2 linked regions of the Homo sapiens genome follow. The protein of the gene in region 1 interacts with the protein of each later gene in a biochemical or structural test. Each region holds a gene or a part of one and is shown on either strand. Other genes may lie near its edges.

Evidence for each region. The genes of interacting proteins can lie anywhere in the genome.
Region 2: the proteins of CHD9 (region 1) and PPARA form a complex in vitro, tested with the Homo sapiens proteins (one study listed by BioGRID).

Annotation. Positions count from the first base shown.
Region 1 is NC_000016.10:53,051,153-53,057,990, reverse strand, and holds the start of CHD9 (chromodomain-helicase-DNA-binding protein 9), read right to left. Parts: upstream 3,001-6,838; 5' UTR 2,914-3,000; intron 1-2,913. UniProt on the Homo sapiens protein: Probable ATP-dependent chromatin-remodeling factor. Acts as a transcriptional coactivator for PPARA and possibly other nuclear receptors. Has DNA-dependent ATPase activity and binds to A/T-rich DNA.
Region 2 is NC_000022.11:46,230,505-46,237,530, reverse strand, and holds part of PPARA (peroxisome proliferator-activated receptor alpha), read right to left. Parts: intron 5,740-7,026; coding exon 5,292-5,739; intron 2,399-5,291; coding exon 2,151-2,398; 3' UTR 1-2,150. UniProt on the Homo sapiens protein: Ligand-activated transcription factor. Key regulator of lipid metabolism. Activated by the endogenous ligand 1-palmitoyl-2-oleoyl-sn-glycerol-3-phosphocholine (16:0/18:1-GPC). Activated by oleylethanolamide, a naturally occurring lipid that regulates satiety.

The DNA.
Region 1 (6,838 bases):
GCACATCGCAGCCTTCTCATACTTAGGAACACTAGACAGCACGTCAACTGTACACTTGGGGCCATTTCAAACAGCGACATCACAAACAAAAACACACAAACATGCAAAAAATGTGGCACTAAGTACACCACAAAAGGGACACTTGTTTATAGCACAAGAGCTGAAACCAGAAAGCAGCGTGTCCTCCTGTTTGCCCTTGGCTGGAAATGTGCACGTTGGGTGACTCAACTTTTTCACTATTCTACGTGCATCCATATATGACTGTGAAAGTGTCATGGATATTGATTTGGAAGTTACGCAGACATTATTTTTCTTTTTTCTTTCTTTTTTTTTTTTGAGATGGAGTTTCGCTGTTGTTGCCCAGGCTGGAGTACAATGGCGTGATCTTGGCTCACTGCAACTTCCACCTCCCAGGTTCAAGCAATTCTCCTGCCTCAGCCTCCCAAGCAGCTGGGATTACGGGCTCTTGCCACCACGCCCAGCTAATTTTTTGAATTTTTAGTAGAGACGGGGTTTTGCCATGTTGGCCAGGCTGGTCTCGAACTCTTGACCTCAGGTATCCACCCACCTCGGCCTCCCAAAGTGCTGGGATTACAGGCATGAGCCACTGCACCCGGCCTTTTTTCCTCTTTTTTTTTTTAAATGAGCCAAGGTCTCTCTATGCTGTCCAGGCTGGTCTCAAACTCCTTAGCTCAAGTGATTAGGCTGGTGTCAAACTCCTAAATTCAAACTCCTAACCTCACACCTCAGTCTCCCAAAGTGCTGGGATTACAGGTGTGAGCCACCACACCCGGCCACAAACATATTTTTTTAAAAATTCTTTAATTATATAATTTTTAAAATAAAGATATAGGGTCTTACTGTGTTACCCAGGCTGATCTGGAACTCCTAGCCTCAAGTAATCTTTCTGCCTCAGCTTCCCAAAGTACTGGGATTATATGCATGAGCCACCATGCCTGGCCACAAACAAATTTTTTTTAAGAATTATTCAATGTGTATAATTTTTAAGCAAACAGGGCCTTGCTCTGTTGCACAGGCTGATCTGAAACTCCTAGCCTCAAGCGATCCTCCTGCCTCAGCCTCTCAAAGTGCTGGGATTACAGGGAAGAATTTGCAAATTTAGAACTTGTGAATAATGAGAATCTACTGCACTTTCTTCCTGTTTCTCTCATTCGGGGCTGGCTGAATTCTGTCTTACTCATATTTTATCTCTAGCATCTGGAAAACTGCCTGGCCCACAGTAGGCTCTCAATAATAAATGTATTTCCAATGAGCGAATGAGTCAATTCAGTGGAAGTGCTCAGCTCACAGCAGTGATAGCTAGTGTTTGTGAAGACACACCACGCGCCTGCCCCGTGCACGCTGTCCTGGTCAACAAGGGAAACAGCAGAGTATTGTTCTTTTGCACCTGAGCTCAAGAGCAGACTGCCTGGGTTCAAATATGGGACATGCTTCTTATTAATTAATTATATAACTTCGAGCAAGATCATTGGCCTCTCTGAGCCTCAGTTTCCTTGGCTATCAAATGCAGTATTCATAGTTCTACCGTGGAAGTTATGGTCAGGAGTCTAACTTGGCCCTGCACAGAAAGCCTCTAGCATAGGGTGAACCCTTAGTAAACAGTAGCTTTTATTGTGAATAATTCCCAAGGCAACCCGATTTTCACACCCATTTTGCAGATACAAAAACTGAAGCTGAGGATGGTTCAGTGAGTTTCCAAGGTCACAAAGGAAGGGCTGCCTATGGGGGGGAATCTATGCCCATGTTAGTAACACTGCTGTTATATAAACATAAGGGGTCAGCGGGGCGCAGCGGCTCATGCCTATAATCCCAGCACTTTGGGAGGCCGAGGCTGGAGAATGGCTTGAGCCTAGGAGTTTGAGACCATCCTGGGGAATATAGTGAGGCCCTATCTCTATAAAACAAACAAACATAAGGGCTCATTTTTACTAGTTGTAAAAGGGCCCTTTTACTAGTTGTAAAAAAGGCTCGTTATAAGGCCTCTCACTGCCTAATCAGCTAGGTTTGCCAAAATGAGGAAGACAGCTCCAGCCAGTCTCCTGATCTTCTCTGGGATCAGGGTGGGGAGGAACCCCCTTCCTACCCATAAACCCCTAAGAGTCTTCGCTCACATTCCACACTGGTGTCTTTCTGTTCCTTGTCCACTTTCGAGTTCAACCCTTTCAGAACCAGCCCTACTGTGGGGGGTGGGGGATGGTTAGTTTGTTATCTTGGGTTTGACAGTACAAAGGCAGAGGCATTTCCTGCTTAAAAGGCACATGAGAAAGGAGGAGGAGGGCGAACTGGAGGAATAGGAGGAGGAGGGAATCATCAGCATTCTGGGTTAGAACAAACAAATGTCCTCCGTTTTTCTCCAACTCCTTAGATCAAGGGTCCTCAAATTTGGCTGCCAGCTGGAATCTCTTGCAAACATTTTAATACCCAGATGTCCAGTCCCCCACCCAGACCAATCACATCTGAGTCTCTGGGGGGGGGCGGGGGTGGAACTAGGGCATCGGTATTTTTTTAATGCTTCCCAAGCAACGCCAACGGGCAGACAAGTTTAAGAAGTGGTGCTCTGGACCTTATCAGCACTCGGCTGCCACCCTGGAGTGGCTCTGGGCGACAGTGGCTGCTTTCCGCTTCGAGGACGCCCGGCTTGGGGATTCGGGCATGCTCTGGGAGGCGAGGGCTGGGGAGGATGCGAGCGTGCCAGCGACCTGGTGCTCTGCCTTGCTCTAGGCCCAGCTCCGAGGCTGCGGGTCTCTGGGTCCCCCCCACGGCTACAACACGTGCTGCCGCCCCGACTCCTCCGGTTATCTCTGCAGACCGCAAGCGGTGCCCAGCGGCCGCCCCGCTGTCCACCCCGACCTCAGAGGCTCCAGGGAGACGCCCGGGGCTCAGGAATCCTACCTTGGCTGCCGGCGCTGCCCTCCAGTCCCCGGAATCCTGGGACTCAGGTTCGAGCTGTCGCTGTCGCTGTCGCTGCGCCTGTGAAGCGCCCACTAGAGCGCAGGCGCCACCTAGTGGGCGCGGGGCGGCTGCGCAGGGACCGCGCTGGCAGGCGGGAGCGCAGTCCAGGGCGGAAATGCAGCCAGGGCTTCTTCCCACGTGGGCGGTTTTCCAGCGCGCCGCCAGCCCTGTGGCCAGATCCGGCCTGGGGCGGGACCACCTTCACCCGCTGCGGGGCACTGGGATCTAAACTTGGTGAACTTTCTCTTGGGGCACGGAGGGACCCCTCGGCCTGGTATCCATCCTCCGGTTTTCCGGGCTGAGCACAAGGATCTTTCCCTTCATCCAGCAGCTTTCAGTGCACCCCACCTTTGGCACTGCTTCTCTTTTAAATGTGCTGGGACCATCCGAGGCTGGGGTTCTCTCCAACCCAGGGAGGCCCTTCGCCTATCAGCAACCATTTTTTCCTGCCACCCCCTAAACCGTCCCTGAATGAGAGAAACAGCCTGCTCTGCTGGCTTGCTCTACAGAGGCCAGGACTGGTGGAGGATGGGTGTGTGCCAGCGACCTCGTGCTCTGCTCTGCTGGAAGGCCTTCTCTGAGCAGTGGAAGGGGAAGGGGCGGCTTAAGGGAATTGTGTTTTTTGTTTTTTGTTTTGTTTTGTTTTGTTTTTGTAGAGACAAGGTCTCTCTATGTTGCCCTGGTGGCTCTTGAACTCCTGGTCTCAAGCGATCCTCTCACCTGCAGCCTCCCAAAGCACTGGGATTACCGGAGTAAACTATGGCTCCCAGCTGCCTGGTATTCTTTCAATGAAGACATGCCAAAACGCTTACAAATATGGTGGACATTTAATGGTTTATATTTCATTTATGTCTTCATTTAACAACGATTAACTGAGCACCTACTATGTGCCACTTTTCTACAATCAAGGGATACAATGAAGAACAAAACACAAAAATCTCTGCTTTTGTTGAATTCACATTTAATGTAACACATGAATACTTTTAACACACCCAACGATCTAATGCAAAGCGATTGAGCTCGTTGTGAGATAAGTAGAGGATTTATTAAAAATATCTATATTTAGGGCCAGGCACCGTAGCTCACGCCTGTAATCCCAGCACTTTGGAAGGCTGAGGCAAGAGGATCGCTTGAGGTCAGGAGTTTGAGACCAGCCTAGCCAACATGGCAAAACCCAGTCTCTACAAAAAATACAAAAATTAGCCGGGCGTGGTGGCAGGAGCCTGTAATCCCAACTACTCCAAGGCTGAGGTGGGAGAATCCCTTGAACCCGGAAGGAGGAGGTTGCAGTGAGCTGAGATCGCACCACTGCACTCCAGCCTGGGTGACAGAGTGAGACTCTGCCTCAAAATCAATCAATCAATCAATCAATCAATCTATGTTTAGGGCGCCAAGGGCAGACATTCCTGGTGATGGATATAAGCATTACAGAGTTCTATGGGAACGTCTTCACGTTTTCTTGTAATCCTGGCAGTTTATCTCTGTGGCAACATTTGGAGATAATGCCTTCAGTGGAAATTTCAGGTGATTTGTGAAAGTTAGGCCTGCAATCCTCCTTTCCCCCTCCCCCCGGCCCCCACTCTGCTCCCCCAGGACGCTCTGTCATTGTTCTAGCCCAGTGTGAGTTTGTGTGTGAGTGTGTGCCTATTTAACCTTTGGACTCTCTGTACTGGTGTAATCTGGTCAAAGTGAATATCAAGGGCAGAGGAGGACAAGGAGGAGCAGGAGGAGAAGGAGGATGAGGAGCAGGAGGAGGAGCAGGAGGAGGAGGAGCAGGAGAAAGGAGGAGAAGCAGGAGCAGGAGGAAGAGGAGCAGGAGAAGAAGGAGCAGAAGGAGGAGGAGCAGGAGGAGGAGAAGGAGGAGGAGCAGGTGGAGGAGGAGGAGCAGGAGGAGGAGAAGCAGGAGGAGCAGAAGGAGAGGAGGAGCAGGAAGAGGAGGAGAAAGAGCAGGAGGAAGAAGAGGAGGAGAAGCAGGAGGAGGAGGAGGAAGAGCAGGAGGAGGAGGAAGAGCAGGAGGAGGAGCAGGAGGAGGAGGAGAAGGAGCAGGAGGAAGAGGAGGAGAAGCAGGAGCAGGGGGAGGAGGAGGAGGCAGAGCAGGAGGAGGAGCAGGAGGAGGAGGAGGAGGTGTCATCTGTGGACAATACCTGGAAGGGCAAGGGGTGGTGGGTGTCACTAAAAGGAACCAGCCCCAGCTACTTCACTGCAGGCTGGTGCCCTGGTGAAGGTGAATCAGTCAGAGGAGTGCTGACTGCCCATGGTAAGTACCAGCTGCCAGACAATTTCCCATTCTTTCACTTTAAAGTGTCTGAGTCATGTCCAGACCATTCTTGCCCCATCTTTGCAACAGCTCCCTCCCCACCACTGTGCCCCAAAGCATGCCTGGGCAAAGTCCTAGATTACAACCTCTGGATTCTGGCATCACCTGATGAGATTAAGTCTTCCTAGTGACTTTCTCTTCTGAGTTCTCCTGGCATTTTTCTCATTCTGCTAATCACAGTGTTTCTGGAAACTGCAGAGTTATCAACAGATCTGTTTTCTCCATGGAAAACAGGAGTTTTGGTAGGCTGAAGTATGTAAATAACAATAATAAAATATTTATAACGTGTTAGACACTAACAGTTTTCTTTAAGAGATGGGGTCTTGTTCTGTCATCCAGGTGATCATTGTTCATTGCAGCCACAAATTCGAGCTCAAGGGATCTTCCCACCTCAGACTCCCAAGTAGCTGGGACTGCAGGCATGTGCCACCATGCCTGGCTAATTTTTAAATTTTAATTTCTTTTTTTTTTAAGAGATGGGGTTTATTGTTTTTTTTTTTTTTTATGTTGCTCAGGCTGGTCTAGAACTCCTAGCATCAAGCATTTCTCCCACCCCAACCTCCTAAGTAGCTGGGATTATAGACACAAGCTGCCATACCTGGCTCATGCACTAAGGATTTTAGATTGACAATTTAGTTTAATCTTCACAGTAATCCTACAAAGTAGGCACTGTTACTCTCCCCACTTTCTCAGCGAAGAAACTGAGACTTGCGATGTTTAAGTAACTTGCCCTAGGTAGAGGAGTTAGCAAGTAATGTACCCAGAACGTGAATCTGGATTATCTTATTCCAAGGCACATGCCCTGAACACCTCACTACTGTTTACTAAGCACCTACTATGTGCTGGACGCTGTGCTTTATATATGGAACAGGATAGGCAAGGTACTCATTATATATATATATATATATATATATATATATATATATATATATTTATACTTTTAAGTTGTAGGGTACAGGTGCACAATGTGCAGGTTTGTTACATATGTATACATGTGCCATGTTGGTGTGCTGCACCCATTAACTTGTCATTTACATTAGATATATCTCCTAATGCTATCCCTCCCCCCTCCCCCTACCCCACAACAGGCCCCGGTGTGCGATGTTCCCCTTCCTGTGTCCAAGTGTTCTCATTGTTCAATTCCCACCTATGAGTGAGAACATGCGGTGTTTGGTTTTTTGTCCTTGCGATCATTTGCTGAGAATGATGGTTTCCAGCTTCATCCATGTCCCTACAAAGGACATGAACTCATCATTTTTTATGGCTGCATAGTACTCCATGATGTATATGTGCCACATTTTCTTAATCCAGACTATCATTGTTGGACATTTACTCATTTTTATCCCTTTTGCTTTCTTGTTCTGTTCACCCTTTTCTTCAAAGGGAAAATTTTGTTTACTTTTGTTTTTTAAAATAAATTCATAAAATTATGTTATGAGATGTGACCTAATTTTTAGTAAGAAAGGGAATATTTATCTTCTAGAGTGAGTCTCCATTAAAGAGGGTGAGGATCAGGCCAGAGGCAGTGGCTCACACCTATAATCCCAG
Region 2 (7,026 bases), on another chromosome or scaffold:
GACCTCCTGGGTTCAAGCAATCCTCCCACCTCAGCCTGCAGAGTAGCTGGGACTACTGATGTGTGCCACCCCGATGAACTAATTTTTAAATTTTGTGTACAGACAGGGTCTTGCTATGTTGCCTAGGCTGGTCTCGAACTCCTGGGCTCAAGTGATCCTCCCACCTCGGCCTCCCAAAGTGCTGGGATTCCATGTGTGAGCCACTGTGCCTAGCCTGATTACAAAAACCAAAACGGACTAAATTTGTAATTTTTAAAAAAGGATGTCCTAACCCTAACTTTCACTTTTTTCTAGTGGAAGTCTCACACTGTGTCCTTCCCACTCTCGCATTTTCATAATGCTGGTCATGGGACCCTTATCAATCCTAATCATTCTTAAAATAATAATGACCTCAGAAGAGCCAAATTTTCTAAAGATGGGGGAGAGGCATCGACGATACCTCCAGGTGCCCAGCGACTCCCTGGAGGCGGTGGTCCTGGCAGTTCCAGTCCAGATCTAAAAATTCTCAACAGGACAATTTATCTACCAGGTGGACAGAGAGAGAAAGTGTTTCCAGGTCCATATATTCTTGACAAACTACCATAATCAACGCTGCCTTCCCAGCTGGACTGAGGTTGGTAAGTTGGTTTTGAAGGCTAAAACAAAAATTTTAGATGTTGAAAAAACTACCTTACATACAAAGGAGACTTAACAACCTAAACCATTGTAAAAAATAACCAACTCTTGTGAAATCTGCCATTTGAAGTAAAACTGCCATTTGAAGAAGACTCTACCCCCTCTCTCGATCCGCAGGGTGACTGGCTCCCACCCAGCCCAGGCTATGAAGACACATGTGCCTCGTCTGCGCTCCAGAGAGCATCTACTGTCACCAAGAGTTAAAACAATAAAACATCATATCTTTAAAAGCAACATAACAAAAGATACGGGAGCTGCCAAATGGGGCCCGGAGGAACACTGACAAGTAAGGTGTCAGTCTGTCCCTAAGAACACCACCATTCCCACAGACAGCTGGACTGGGTGGGTTCAGGTTGACTGGACGGAGCTGAGTGGAGCAGGAAGCTGGCGGGCTTCGGGAGCTTGTCTCGTCCCGCTTACCACGGGTGCTAGCTTATGACAGTCCAGAGCGGGGGTCTTGAGACTCTGTTTTCTGGGCTCTTCTACGCAAACCTGGAAATGGGCCTTTCCACATATTAGTTACAACCACGAAAACAGTGAGCCAAAAACAAAACAACAGCTGCATTTTGATAGCTTATCTAACAGATTTTTTTTTTGTTTGTTTGTTTTTAAGACAGAGTCTCGTTCTGTCACCAGGCTGGAGTGCAGTGGTGCAGTCTTAGCTCACTGCAACCTCCAACTCCCTGGTTCAAGCAATTCTCCTGCCTCAGCTTCCCGAGTAGCTGGGATTACAGGCATGTGCCACCACACCCGGCTAATTTTTGTATTTTTAGTAGAGACAGGGTTTCACCATGTTGGCCAGGATGGTCTCGATCTGCTGACCTTGTGATCCACCCGCCTCGGCCTCCCAAAGTGCTGGGATTACAAGTATGAGCGACTGTGCCTGGCCCAAACAGTTCTTTAAAATTCTCCATCCTATGATTAAAAAGCAGCATGTTGTCTTTCTTTAGATTCAGGAAACAGAAGTGAAGTCTTTGAAATAAATATTTTGCTGCTTTTTACATACTTCACCTTTGGATACATCTAGACTTATAGGATTATAAACATTGTTAAAAAGTGCTGATTAGTTTTCAGAATTATAAAGGAGCACAATAGTCAAAAGCGGGGTGAATGGGAAGACAGGCCACGAATTTTGAGGTTACCAGTTAATTAAATGGTAAATCACGAATGTGATCTAAAGCAATGTGCATTGATTAACATCGGGTGAGTTAAAATCAGACCATTGAGCATAATTCGCCGTAATCTTCCCAGTCCTGAGATTAGCCACCTACCCCCAGCATTTGAGTTCTATGCTCTTAGAAGTACTGGTTAAAACAAAGATATGGAATAATATGCCGGTTACCTACAGCTCAGACTGTCCAAGCTCTAAGGTTAAAGTGGTGGATATTTGTGCAAAATCGTGCTGCTCCCCCGTCTCCTTTGTAGTGCTGTCAGCTTCAGAACTCCTGGAAAAGGTGTGGCTGATCTGAAGGAACTCAGTACATGTCCCTGTAGATCTCCTGCAGTAGCGGGTGCAGCGCAGCATCCGACTCCGTCTTCTTGATGATCTGCACCAGCTGCGCATGCTCCGTCACCAGCTGCCGGAGGTCTGCCATTTTTTGAAGAAGTTTTGGGAAGAGAAAGATATCGTCCGGGTGGTTGCTCTGCAGGTGGAGTCTGAGCACATGTACAATACCCTCCTGCATTTTTTCAATGTGTCCTACGTTTAGAAGGCCAGGACGATCTAGTCTCGAAAGAAGAGAGAGAGGTTTGAGTGTGATAATCACCCAAGAACTGCTTATCAGTTTCAGGAACCAAACATGCCTATTTTATGTGGCCTTTCTTAGAAAAAAACTGAGCTGCCTTTAGATATTGTCAACTTGACTGGAAGATAGACATAGGTTTTTCCAAAGTCAATAGGTGAAGTAGGGACAGACAGGACCAGTACTCTTTCCTAAATATTCATACTACTAGGCGGCAATAGTGCCCTAAGTACACCTTATGGTGCGGCCTTTTCACTTGTGATTTACCTGATGACCACCTGTCAGGGAGAAAAATTAGAGCTAGTAGGAGGAACAGTACATTCTGGAGATCACAACCACCAGTTTTGCATAATATGGGAAATGAAGCTTTTGAATCCAAACTAGATATCAAGCTTCAAGTGTTCCACCATATTTAAGGAGTGATTGTGTTAGAACTAGGTTTTGTAGGCCAGGCACGGTGGCTCACGCCTGTAATCCCAGATACTCGGGAGGCTGAGGTGGGAGAATCGCTTGAACCTGGGAGACGGAGATTGCAGTGAGCCAAGATCAGGAGACCCAGAGTGGGGAGGAGGGTGGGGCAGGTCTGAGACTTGGTGCAGGAAGAGTCAACATTCACACCAGATGACCTGCCTGGGGTAGCTGGCACTAGACATCCTGGGACAGTCTCAAAGCATGAGACCTGATTCTTGGTCCAGAAAATACTGCCCTGAGCCATGTTCAGCAGGCGGTGCTCCCTTACAGACCCAGTCATTACTATGATTCTTAACAGGGTTGCTAGTGATGAGGATTTAAACATCTTCATTGTTTTTGGTTGTAAATGTAATTATTAAGTTTTTATTTCTAAAATTCTTGTTTTTGTATTGTTTTAGTGATGGGGTCTTGCTCTGTTGCTTAGGCTGGACTGGAACTCCTAGGCTCAAGCAATCCTCCTGCCTCGGCCTCCAGAGTGGCTGGGGCTATAACTATTAAGTCTCTAAAGAGAGGAATTATTGCCGGGTGCAGTGGCTCATGCCTGTAATCCCAGCACTTTGGGAGGCCGAGGTGGGTGGGTCACCCGGGGTCAGGAGTTTGAGACCAGCCTGGCCAATATGGTGAAACCCCATCTTTACTAAAAATACAAAAATTAGCCAGGTGTGCTGGCATGTTCCTGTAATCTCAGCTACTCAGGAGGCTGAGGCAGGCGAATCACTTGAACCCAGGAGGCGGAAGTTGCAGTGACCTGAGATCGTGCCACTGCACTCCAGCCAGGGTGACAGACGGAGACTCTGTCTCAAAAAAAAAAAAAAGGAGGAATCTTTTGAAAAATAGAAATCCCCCCTCATAATTTTAATCCCACCATAATAGGTTTAACATATATCTCACTGGACATTTTTCTATATACATAGGATTGATATAGGATTATAATTTCCTTTATAAAACTGTGATCATGCTACATATAAATAGTTCTGCAACTGCATTTTACCCACAATGCTACATCCTGACCATACTAAAGGACAAATTATGCATAACTGCTTTGTCTTTGTACACTTTATGCCAGAGCGCAAGGACTTCCTTCATCTGACTTGTGCCCAGCCACACAGTAACGGGCACGGCTGGTAGGGCTGAGTCAGCTCCATGCTGACAGTGAGTCAATCCCCCAGGCGCAGTATGGCTGCAGGCAGTGTGGGAGACCCCATCTGTCTCCACCAACCCTGGGTAAGGTCAGCCGAGTTTGCAGTAGGTGGATGACCTTCCTAGACCTGAGATGGGGCTATTTAAAGGAACGTGACACCGAGCCAAAAATGTGGAGGCTGCAGAGCCAGCTTCCACAGAGAGGACCAGATCGGCCTTCCCTGGGATCTGCTTCCTCGGGCAAAGCAAACCTTGCAGTCACTGCCACTTGGCTGCTGACTGATATTATATTTTGCATTAGGAAATATACTTTTCATCAACATAACCAACTGTGACAGCAACTATACTGACATCTGTATAGCACTTCATACAATATTGTCTATAATATGAATACAACATCATTATATAATATATACAGGAATATCATAATATATAAATTATATCTGTTTATAATATTAGATATAATATAAACGAAATGTGTGTGTGTGTGTGTGTGTATAATTTTTTTTTTTTTTTTTTTTGAGACAGGGTCATTCTTCGTCGCCCAGGCTGGAGTGTGGTGGCGTGACCTTGGCTCACTGCAACCTTTGTCTCCTGGGCTTAAGTGATCCTCCCACCTCAGCCTCTCAAGTAGCTGGGACTACAGGTACATGCCACCATACTTGACTAATTTTTTCTATTTTTTTTTTTGTAGAGACGGGGTCTTGCCATGTTGCCCAGGCTGGTCTCAACCTCCTGGGCTCAAGTGATCCACCCACCTCAGCCTCCCAAAGGGCTGGGATTACAGGCCCATGTCCGACCTCTTTTTCTCTATATATATATTTGTGCAAAATATATAATTTTTTTTTAAAGAAATAGGTCTTGTTCTGTTGCCCAGGCTAGAGTGCAGTGGTGCATTCATAACTCATTGCAACCTGAACTCCTGGGCTCAAGAGATCCTTTTGCCTCAGTCTACTGAGTAAGTAGCTGGGACTAAAGGTGTGCACCCCCACACCTGGCTAATATTATGATTAAAATGTCATACATTTACATAATATTAAATATGTATTTATAGATAATAACAATATATACTATAATATTATACAATATTGTTATAATTCCCACTGAATTCTCAGCAGTGACTGGGGGTCAGACGTCTTCCCACCATGTGAGTGTCCCCTCCACTGGAACAGCTCAGGCTGGTACTGGATTTCCCATTGTCAAATTTTTCAAGACAGGAGCCTGTCAGTGACATGATACCAGCAGATTAAATCAACCACTCACCTCCACAGCAAATGATAGCAGCCACAAAAAGGGAGATATCACTGTCATCCAGTTCCAGTGCATTGAACTTCATGGCAAAATCAAACTTGGGTTCCATGATATCACAGAACGGTTTCCTTAGGCTTTTTAGGAATTCACGAGTTATAAACCCATTTCCATACGCTACCAGCATCCCGTCTTTGTTCATCACAGAAGACAGCATGGCGAATATGGCCTCATAAACTCCGTATTTTAGCAATGTCACTTGATCGTTCAGGTCCAAGTTTGCGAAGCCTGGGATGGCCTTGGCGAATTCCGTGAGCTCCGTGACGGTCTCCACTGACGTGCACTGGCAGCAGTGAAAGATGCGGACCTCCGCCTCCTTGTTCTGGATGCCATTGGCCACCAGCTTGGCCACCAGCGTCTTCTCAGCCATACACAGTGTCTCCATATCATGTATGACAAAAGGCTACAAAGGAGGACACCAAGGTAAGTCAGGTGATGTGGGATGCGCTATGCTCCCAGCTATCAGCTCACTAATGAGCAGCTCCTGCGTCCAAATCACCAAGCTCAGTGCCTCAGAGGACTCAAGATACCCGCGGAACATAGTCCTTACTCAACTTCAAAATCGGTTGGGGAAAATAAGACATTAATAGAGAACAAACAGTATAAATCAGTAAAATAATAATAGTCATCGCCTGACATTGGGTGGATTTCATCGCTAAGAAACTGAAGTACTGGGCTGGGCATGGTGGCTCACGCCTGTAATCCCAGAACTTTGGGAGGCTGAGGTGGGTGGTTTACCTGAGGTCAAGAGTTCGAGACCAGCCTGGCCAGCATGGTGAAACCCCGTCTCTACTAAAAATACAAAAAAATTAGCTGGGTGTGGTGGCGGGCGCCTGTAGTCCCAGCTACTCGGGAGGCTGAGGCAGGAGAATGGCGTGAACCCAGGAGGCAGAGCTTGCAGTGAGCCGACATTGCGCCACTGCACTCCAGCCTGGGTGACAGAGCGAGACTCCGTCTCAAAAAAAAAAAAAAAATTAGCCAGGCATAGTGTGTGCCTGTAACCCCAGCTACTCGGGAGGCTGAGGCAGGAGAATCGCTTGAACCTGGGAGGTGGACGTTGCAGTGAGCCAAGATCGTGCCACTGCACTCCAGTCTCCAGTCTGGGCGACAGAGCGAGAGTAAGACTCCGTCTCAAAAAAAAAAGAAACAAGAAACTGAAGTACTGATTTTGTCAAAACAAAACTAACGAGGACATTAGCAAAGCACCTTTAATATTCTTAAATATTCTCTGAACTAATGACTATTGCAAGAGGCTTAATTACGATCATTCTTAATTTTACCAGTATATGCACTTTAGGGGTGAACACCATTATTTAACGCTGCTCAATGAATACATTTGGCATGTAAATACATACAACTCAGAAAGGTGGCATCTATGTAGAAATCGGCAAACAAGCGTTGTGAAACTCTTTAGGGATAAAGTGGAAAAGCCTCGGAATGCCCTTGTTTCTCTCAGTGCAGGAAACTGAAACCTTCACTCGGTGCTCCATATTCTGGAGCAAGTGCCAACTCCCCACAGCCGTGCCTTGTGTGCTCCCATGCCATCTGCATGTAAACCCAGTGGCCTGCCATTTCCTGAAGATCTCGTGGTGGAAGAGGTGGCTGGCCATATTATTTGAAGCCAACATGCTCAGAAGGGATTACATGTGTGGGAGAGCCGGGGAAAATGAGCACAAACACTGCTGTTGGC